Linked DNA regions of Homo sapiens: all the other regions are reported to be linked to region 1. Evidence: microRNA targets listed by miRTarBase, many of them from high-throughput screens and not tested one by one. Region 1 holds a microRNA gene; each other region holds the end of a gene's coding sequence.
Evidence for each region. The annotated mature microRNA hsa-miR-3942-5p reads AAGCAAUACUGUUACCUGAAAU and lies in region 1 at 2,269-2,290, opposite strand. An mRNA with a match to its seed (bases 2 to 7 or 8) in the 3' UTR can be bound and repressed. Matches are read on the target gene's strand: a 7mer-m8 pairs with bases 2 to 8, a 7mer-A1 pairs with bases 2 to 7 and ends in A, and an 8mer does both.

Region 2: the mRNA of RBBP4 is a reported target of hsa-miR-3942-5p. The part of its 3' UTR that is shown has no 7-base or 8-base seed match.
Region 3: miRTarBase lists KCNIP3 as a target of hsa-miR-3942-5p. Seed matches in the 3' UTR shown: 7mer-A1 at 2,449-2,455.

Annotation. Positions count from the first base shown.
Region 1 is chr15:35,370,053-35,373,278 of GRCh38, forward strand. It overlaps MIR3942 (microRNA 3942), which reads right to left and starts at 2,312; the gene lies at 2,204-2,312. It overlaps DPH6 (diphthamine biosynthesis 6), which reads right to left. Exons shown (of 9, transcript NM_080650.4): 9 at 828-2,151. The coding sequence ends at 2,098.
Region 2 is chr1:32,679,452-32,682,451 of GRCh38, reverse strand. It overlaps RBBP4 (RB binding protein 4, chromatin remodeling factor), which reads right to left. Exons shown (of 12, transcript NM_005610.3): 12 at 1-2,812. The coding sequence ends at 2,747. SYNC (syncoilin, intermediate filament protein) reads left to right here. Exons shown (of 5, transcript NM_030786.3): 5 at 592-2,546. The coding sequence ends at 602. Among named protein-coding and RNA genes, the nearest start is that of SYNC, 22 kb to the left of the region's middle.
Region 3 is chr2:95,383,619-95,386,618 of GRCh38, reverse strand. It overlaps KCNIP3 (potassium voltage-gated channel interacting protein 3), which reads right to left. Exons shown (of 9, transcript NM_013434.5): 9 at 542-2,617. The coding sequence ends at 2,570. Among named protein-coding and RNA genes, the nearest start is that of FAHD2A, 18 kb to the left of the region's middle. RefSeq lists a silencer at 624-918 and an enhancer at 352-1,252.

The DNA of each region.
Region 1 (3,226 bases):
TAGACCACACAAATATACAAAAGAACAAGGCAATATGATGGAGAAAAGATAGTCTTTTCAAGAAATGGTGCTGGAACAACTGAATAACTACATTTTTAAAAAACGAATCCATATATAGATGTTATGTCCTTTACAAAAATGAATTCAGAATGTATCACAAACATAAACATAAAGCACAAAGCTATCAAGCTTCGACAAGATAATCCAGATGACCTTGGATTTTGCAATGATTTTACAGATAGATATAACATTAAAAGCATAATACTAGAAAAAAAGAATTGATAAGCTGGAGTTCCTTAAAATTAAAAACTTGTGCTTTGTAAAAGACACTGTTAAGAGAATGAAAAGACAAAACATAGAATGGTAGAACATATTTGCAAATACATATTTGATAAAGAACTGTTATCCAAAATATGCAAAGAACTCTTAAAACTCAATAATAAGACAAAAACCCCAATTAAAAATAGTCAAAAGATCTGAAGAGACATCTCACCAAAGGAGATACACAGATGGCAAACAAACATGAAAAGATGTTCAACATCACATATCTTTAGGTAGTTGCAAACTAAAACAACAATGAGAGAACACTTCAGACCTACCAGAATGGCAAAAGTCCAAAATTCCTACAATGCTCAATGCTGGTCAGGAGGTGGAACAACAGAAACTCTCATTCATTGTTGGTGGGAATACAAAATAGTACAACTACTTTGGAAAACAGTGTGGCAGTTTTTTTTACAAAGCTAAACATAATCTTACCATATGATCCAGTAATTGTGCTCCTTGGTATTTATACACCTGAAAAAAACTTATCTTCACACAAAAACCTGTTCATGGATGTTTATAGTCGCTTTATTCATAATCGCCAAAACATGGAAGCAACTGAGATGTTCTTCAATAGGTGCATGGACAAATGAAATGTGGTAGAACCAGACAATAAAATTTTATTCTACACTAAAAAAAAAATGAGCTACATATACATGACAAGATACAGAGAAACCTAAATGCATATTAATACATGAAAGAAGCCAATCTGAAAAGCTATATACTGCATGAAAAGCTATATACTGTATGATTTCAACTACATTACATTCTGGTAAAAGCAAAACTATGTACACAGTGAAAAGATCAGTTGCTAAGGGTTAAAGGAGAGGGAGGGATGAATAAGTAAAACACAGAGGATTTTTTAAGGCAGTGAAATTATTCTGTATAATACTATAACGGTTGACAAATGTCATTACACATTTGTCAAAACCCATATTATGTACAACACCAAGAGTGAACCCTCACGTAAACTATGGACTTTGGGTGATAATAATGTGTCAATGTAGGTTCATCAGTTGTAACAAATGTACCACTCTATTATAAGACATTGACGGTAGGGGAGGCTGTGAATGTGTGGAGGTAGAGGGTATATGGGAAATCTCTGCATTTTCTGCTCCATTTTTGCTGTGAACCTAAAACTGTTCTAAAACATAAAGTCTATTTTTTGTAAAAGTTTTCTAAGGTCAACATAGTTAATACTGAAAAACAGCATTTTAAAAATCAGTTATAAAATAACTTGTAAGAGTTAAGGACATTCTTCCTAATTGTCCAATAACGTTGAAACACTTCAACCATGAATATATTTAAAATAAAAATGATAAATCGCTTTGGCGACACCCAGTAGAATAAGCTTGACTGGCTAAATAAAGTGACCATCTTTTCATCTTCATTTTCAAATGCCTCTGCATCATGACATTATTGGTAGGGATTGGAGCAAGAAAGAGAGAAGGAGGAAAAGAAACTAGTGTGATAAAAAAAGAAATGCTACAGAAATGGGGTTTATAGATGAAATAAAAGAAAAAAAAGGTCATAGGGAAGATGTGTTAACGAAAGAGAAAGAGTGAATTCCAAGAAAGTTGGCACTATTAATGAACATGCCGTCGACATTTTCCCAATTAATAAATGGTTCCACTAACCTCTTCTAGTGAAAGTATGTTTCTCTAAAAAAATAAGAGTCATGAGAAAAAAATAAACTAGTCATAGTAACTGAGAAAATACTATGCAATTTTTTTGTATAGAAATGGTGGTTTAATGAACAATGTTCCAAAACACTTTTCAAAAATTATATATATAATTAGATGTTCTGTAGTTGTCAGGCACTGAGGACACCTAAAAAAAAAAGGGAAGGAAAGGGAAGGAAAATGCACCATATTTATTCAGTGTCAGTGAATATGACACTTCAAAGATGTAATACTGTTATCTGAAATACTGTTATCTTCGCAGCCTATTTCAGGTAACAGTATTGCTTCTTTGAGGTGTCATACTGAAGACCAATCAAATACCAAAACAACGAGGTGAACAGTGAGCTATTCGGGTAGAGCTGAACATAGAATGGCTGGAATGCCTACACATGAATTCAGTGCTTTTGACTTTGTGTGTGCGTACATGGTAGCAAAAGTAGCAGAAAACTACAAGTTAGGGGTTCAAGTAAATCTGAAAAACATTTGGATAGTGTAACTTAATTCTTGTGGGGGTTACCAGCTTTTTGATAAAAGGTCACCAATAGTCATCATCCAGCCCAATTCCACAACCTATTTTTAATCCTGCCCATTGTCATTCTTCTGGAGAACTGGCACCTATAATTATCCTCACCTGTAGAAACCCTCTCATCTTGAGATTTTTGGCATTACCACTCTTTTCCTACTTTTGCCGAATTCTTGTTAATCCTCTTACTCCTTCAGATTTCCTATGATGTAAAATATGTAACTGTGGGTGTGCCTCAAGACTTGGGGGAAAGAACACTAAATATACAGAAGACATTTTCTAATCCTTTTCTGTCACTACACTCATTTCTTCACATAATTTCAGCTATCATTTTTATGGTAACTAATATAAAGCAACATCTGAAGGATGAGACCTCTCAATCAAGGAATCTAATCCAGAACTTTATTCCACAAGATATCTTTAAATTAAAATTTTACTGTATCTTGACAGTGTATTTAAAATAAAACTCTTTATTGTAATTTTGCTTCACTTTCCATCTTCCATTTTTACTTCTCTTTTCCTGGATATTTTTGTAAAGGTTTTATTTCTCCTTTTCCTCTCTTAAGCTTTGAATAATGACAATCCAATTTATCCTCAAACCCTTCCCTTAATGCTTATGTACAGTAACTTAAATGTGATCCTGCTAGATGATTTAATATTTGATTTTATATTGTCCTCCCATTGTTTAATGTATATACTA
Region 2 (3,000 bases), not on the chromosome of region 1:
TTTATTTTTTTAAATTTCTTTTTAGTAGAGATGGGGGGTCGGGTCTTGCTATTTTGCCCAGGCTGGAGTAGTGGCACGATCTTGGCTCACTGCAACTCTGCCTCCTGGGTTCAAACAATACTCCTGCCTCAGCCTGCTAAGTAGCTGGGATTACAGGCATAAGCCATCACACCCAGCCTTGAGGATTTTCTTATACTGTGTTTGAATCCACATGACTGATAATATGCTTAATGTTTGAGAAATTATAACCTTGCAATTGAGGTTAATGATCTACTAACTACCTTTGTGTTGATCAGATTGTGTACAATCTGGAAAAGACAACGACTAATCCAAAGAAATGAAACTACAGAATTTCAGGCATTGTAATTATACCTGTAAGAAGTTAACCTAGCAGAGAAAACGTTTAACTATCCCTCCCATCACCATCACCATTCATTCTATTTGACAAACAGGAGGCATCCAAATATTTGCTAGGGGAAAGTCATCCCTGATCATCCATAAATCACACTGTAACAATCTCTTCTCAACAAAGCCTGCAGTAACTAAACCTCAGAAGTTCACTGTTATAAACTTTTTCTTTCAACTTTACAGGGGCTGTTTAGAAATATATGGCCAAATCTGTAACCCGGAAACAGCAAAAAACTTCTTAGCAAAGGATCACTAAGTACCCTTTGGATGTACTCTTCCAACCAGACAAGAGTGCCAGAAACTTGGCAAGCAATTCATCCTGTGGAAGTTGCAAATACTGGCTGACCTGCTTAAAAAGATTCTAGAGTTGGCCGGAGGCAGAACATGTCAACTCTTTGCTGGATTCTATTTCATCTGCTGTTGATACTGATCTCAATGCACCAAGGAAAGGAAAGATGAGCCTCCTGTCTTCCAGCAACAACCCTCACATATGCACTGAGTGAAGGATGAATGTATGGACACATCTGGGAGTATTTTAAAGAATGTATCTTGCCTTGTGTTGACCCAAACCAAAAACATTTTTGAGGGGCACATGTGGGGTCAAAAAGATAGCCAATTTCCATTACATGGGTTTACAATTTCCATTCTTTTGTGCCACGAGTGTTAGAATTTAAATGAATACTTTTACAAAGTCTACTTTTTGTTCAAGGATATGCTGACCCATATAGTTTACTCTTAAAATTGTGTCAAGGTATTTCTCACTATACTCTAAAACAACTAGACTTGAAAAGAAACCATTTGAGATTTGAATCTAATGGTTAACGCTATTCAGATTTTCCCAAAGATCTTACCTCATGAAAGTAGTTCTGGGTCAGAATGATCTACTCAGTTAAAAAACAACAACAACAAAAAACTAAGCGATTGGGAAAAAACAGGAATTTTATCTGGTTATTGCATCTGGTGATAGAGGCCTTCAAAGCCTATTATTTCTAACCTAAGTAAAGGCCCCAGTGAAAAACATACTGGGGAAATAAAACCTCTGAGAAAAGGTTCAAGCACCTTTTCCAAATTTAAATCTTGCCTTAAATTCTCTCTACCACACTGCCTTTGACACTCTTGGAAGTCCATGTAGTTCTCTACAGATAGACTTCAAAGAAACGTTACCTTATCAAAGACTAATCTGTGCCACCTCTGATTCAGTGTTTTATGTCTTTCACTTTCCCTGGGAAGGAGTAAAGTTCTTTTCTACAGCTCTGGGACTATTACATTTAATTCTGCTCTTGATAGTCAAAGACCATGGACAACAACTGTCATCTGAAGGACTCTTCTAGAAGCCAGAGACTGGTGTTTGATGGATGTTTTATACTAAATAAAACCCATCAGCATGGGGTTATGTAGAAAAGCAATTTATTCCATTTTAAGCACTTACACAGTTAGTCATGGAGAGTAACAGGCCTGCTGGTGAAACAGGTCACCCAAAATGGAGATGGCATCAAACTAGTGGTCAAGGACTAACTCCTAAAAAAAAAAAGCAACTCTTATCAAGGATTAATTTAATTTTTAAAACAAATACAAGTTATTGATTCACTCTTCTCAACTTGACAGTCTACCTGTGGTATAACTGTCAGGTAAAAACATACATCTTTACAACTTGGTGGTCCCAAGTTAAAAAAAAAAAAAAAAAAACCAACAACAAAAAAAAAAACACCATTTCACAGACAGGAAATAAACAACATGAAAACAGCTCAAGAAATACACTAACGAGCAAAAATATATGAATATATGGGGAAAGAGGAACGTGTTGTTTTGACTTAACTGAAGAAACCAAGAGGAAACTGGTCTACGTATGAAAATGTGCATCCTGGAAAGTCAGGTGTCAAGATTTTCGAGTAGGAATCTATATGACTTGAATCTCCCCCTATTTCCTGAATAAAAGTGACATCTTTCAGTATTTATACTTCATGGCTCAGACACCTACCTCATTTGGCTCTATTCCTTACTCACTCTAGCCTTTACTTAAATGAGTCTGAAAAACTTGGGGATATAGCATAAGAAGAAAAATAATCACACATAATATTCCCCTTTCTGTAGCTACTTTAGACCTGGGTTACTAGAAAATTCCTGAAGAAAATTTCAACGTTAAGTCTGTGGCTTTGTTGAATCAAGCCCCCCTATTAATATTTAGAAAACACCCACGGTTTGGGCTAATAGCATTATCGGTGGTACCTATTATATAGAGGGATAGCTGAATAAAGTCTGTCTCAAAACCAGTGTTAAATCACTCTCAGGGTTGAGAAGAAAAAAGGGGAGTCTAAAATCACAACAAGTAAAGACATATCTAGGACCCTTGTCCTTCTGGATCCACGCTTCCTTCAGGGTCTTCATCATTATAAATGTTCTCTGCCTGCCCAAAAACAAGAAAAAGAATTTAAACATGAAGACTTCTTCTAAAACTCAAGGTTTCAACAACAGATTAGGCCAGGAAGCCAGAGAGTAAATACTTTATAGCTTTTGGGCCACACAATCTGTGTTACAACTATTCAACTCTTGGATGAAAGTATCCGGAGACAACCTATAATGGGTAATGAAATA
Region 3 (3,000 bases), not on the chromosome of region 1:
AACGTGTTTGGATTTCTTCAATCTGAACTGGTGAGTTGGGGAACCCTCCTCCTCCCTCCTCCCAGGCTTTCATTCTTGTCCCTTCCCTGGCATTGTCCTCACAGGGCTTATACTTCTGAAAATAAACACCAGGAGATGTGTTCAGGCAAATATTGCTTTCTTCTGCCCCGTGACCCTCACTCTCCAGCCAAGGGGACACCCAGAATGACTTCCTGGAACTGGGAAAGAAAAATTATCTGGGGGTGAAATACACATGGTGCCTCAGGAAGAAGTCCTCCTGCCCTGTGGGGTCTGTGCGGAGGCTGCAGGGCTGGCGCTTCCCATGAAGGCCACAAAGGCCCACTGTGTGCATCTCGGCCTCACTCGGCCTCAGTGAGGTCACACTGTGAGCCTGAGAATTTGAGCGGCATTCTCTGCCCCCAGAGCCAGCTGTCAAACATTTACCAGCACAGCACCAGGCAGGATCCACGGCTAATGGCAGCAGGGGTGGGAAGAGCTGAGCTGAAGTTCAGAGCTAGGATAAAGCCAACAGGAATCCCTCTCCTTTGTCAAGTTTATTTTATTAAAATATACAGGACTGAATATTAGTGGATGCTGAGAACAGGAACCACCCTCCCAGGCCGTGGCCAAGGGAGACGCTTCTGCCATGCAGACATGCGGCCGGTCTGTGTCCCAGCGTGGGAGGCAGACCCCTCCTGGTTGGGCTGTGCAGCCAGTCTGGCCCCAAGGCCAAGGCCGGCAGGGGTGTGGTGGTGATGCTCTCCTGAGGCCTTGGCCTTAGAGGCAGAGTGACACCAGCTGGGAGGGCTGGGCAGCGGGTGAGGGGAGGGAGAAGATCCCTGAGCCAGGGAAAGCTGATGCCCTCCTGGAGGCAGAGGCCCCCAGTCAGCCTGGAGCCTGGAGCCAGGCGTCCATGCAGCTCCGCAGGGGAGGCCAGGCTGTGTGTGAATGCCGAGGGGCCCCCATGGCCTCCGCCATACTGCCTTTCCTCTGAGGGCCCTGCTCACCCTGGGGCTAGCCTCTTGGGGCACACGGGGACTCCCCGGGCCAGCCCTGAGTGGAGCTGGGCTGGCTGTGATGGAATGTATTATGTGGGAATGTTCCTGGAGGGGCCATGCGGCCTGGGACCGGGTTCCTTCTGGGTGAGGCCCCAATCAGGCGGGAGCAGCATCTCTCTCCTCCTGGGGGTTTCTGCTGACCACCCAGCCACAGCCCTCTCAGCCCTCACCATTGGCTCCAGCTTTGGGCTGGCATTCTCCATCCCCAGATGGAGGGGACAGCCAAGCAGAGTCCCCAGGGTTTGTGCTTTTGAATGTTGGTCAGCCGGGCTGGGCTTTGGGGCCCCACTGATCCCAGGCACAGAGCAGACCCCCAAGGCCTCTTCCCCAGGGCCACCATATTGGGGCTACTGGGCCCAAGCCTCAGCCAGCAGGAGGGCCTGGCCTCCGAGAAGCAGTGTGCTGGGCTCCCACTAGGGCTGCGCCTGAGCTGCTAAGGAATGCTTGTGCTTTTTGTGCAAGGCAGAGGGACGGCGACACTGCTTCAGGAGAGGGGGCTCAGCCAAGCTGCTGGGCCATGGGAGGGGCACTACAGGAAGAGGAGGGACACGCCCCTTCCCAGACTCCTCTGAGCTCTGCCCCGGGCTCCCTGGCTGCCAGTCTCTGAACCACGTTCCTCCCGGGACCTAAGAGGACCTTGGAGGGAACAGTCTGTGCTGGAGGGTGTGTACAGCCCCACCCACTGCATTCCCACTGAACCAGGACTGGGGCAAGGAGAGGCTCATCCCACCCTGTGGAGCTGGCAGAGAGTGCCCTCAGATTCTCCACCACGACCCAATCCCTAAACTTGAAATCCCCCGCCTTCCTGCCATGGAGGGAGAATGGGGCCCAGTGGCCCCTCACCACTCAGGCTTGCCCCACAGTGGGTGGCCTGGTACCCAGCTCTTCCAGGTCAGTGGAGTAGCAGGGGATCCTGGGACCCCCAGGGAAGAATTTCCAGAAAGCTGCAGGCTTGGCCTCCATTACCCCCTCTCCCCCCTGCCCCCCAGCTGGTCCCTCTGGGGTCCTGAGGTGAGGGGCTTTCTAGAAGCATAGGTAGTGGGCAGAGAGTGGCTACGGGGAGGAGACCAGGGGAGCCTGGGGCCGGCCCACTGTGTGGCAAGAAAGCAGAATGGAGAACGGGACGAGGTGGGCTCACACCGGAGATTGGACCCTCCCCTGCAGGGGCACTCGAGCCCCTTCTTGGTGACATCCAGCAGCTGGTGGCCTGCAGACCTGCTCTGTCAGCCACTCACCCAGAGGCAGCCTCGCCTCGCTGGCCTGGGAAGGGCTGGCTGGGGCTCCTGGACTCGGCCCCTAGCCAGACTCAGCCCCTCCCTGAACTCTGTCCCCTCTGCCAGCCCAGATGAATGGCTGTGTGTGTGTGTGTGTGTGTGTGTGTGTGTGTGTGTAGCAATCTGTTCACTTTTTGCAAATCTATTTTTTAAAAGTTTCTTGGAGGCTGCTCCTGGCAGGATGGAGGTTTCTTGGGGGTGGAGGTGGCTGTGGCCATGCACTCCTTTGGACGTGTCCTAGATGACATTCTCAAACAGCTGCATGGAGCTCATGATGTTCTCATCCTGCATGGAGAGAGGAAGGGAGGCCTTCAGGTGCTGGGTGGGCTCCAAATCCGACCCCCTTGAGCAGATTCCCGCCAGGGACTCGGAGCCTGCAGCGACTGCCTGTCTGTCTGTCTTATTGGGTGCAGGGAGCTGGGGGACAGGGAGGTGAAGTAGCTGGTCCGAGGTCCCCAGCTGGTGAGGCACAGCCTGTCTTCAACCCCACTCCTGACTGCAAGCCCATCTGGGATGAGCTGATGAAGGCGATCCCGGCTGGCCTCCAGAGGAGGTGGGCGCTAACCAGGACTGCTCTGGGAGTGGGGCAATAGAGGCGCTGGAGGCCCAGCATCCTGCCCCCTGAGGTGCTCTCTGGAAGGGCCAGCAGCAACACTGCGGAAGCTCTG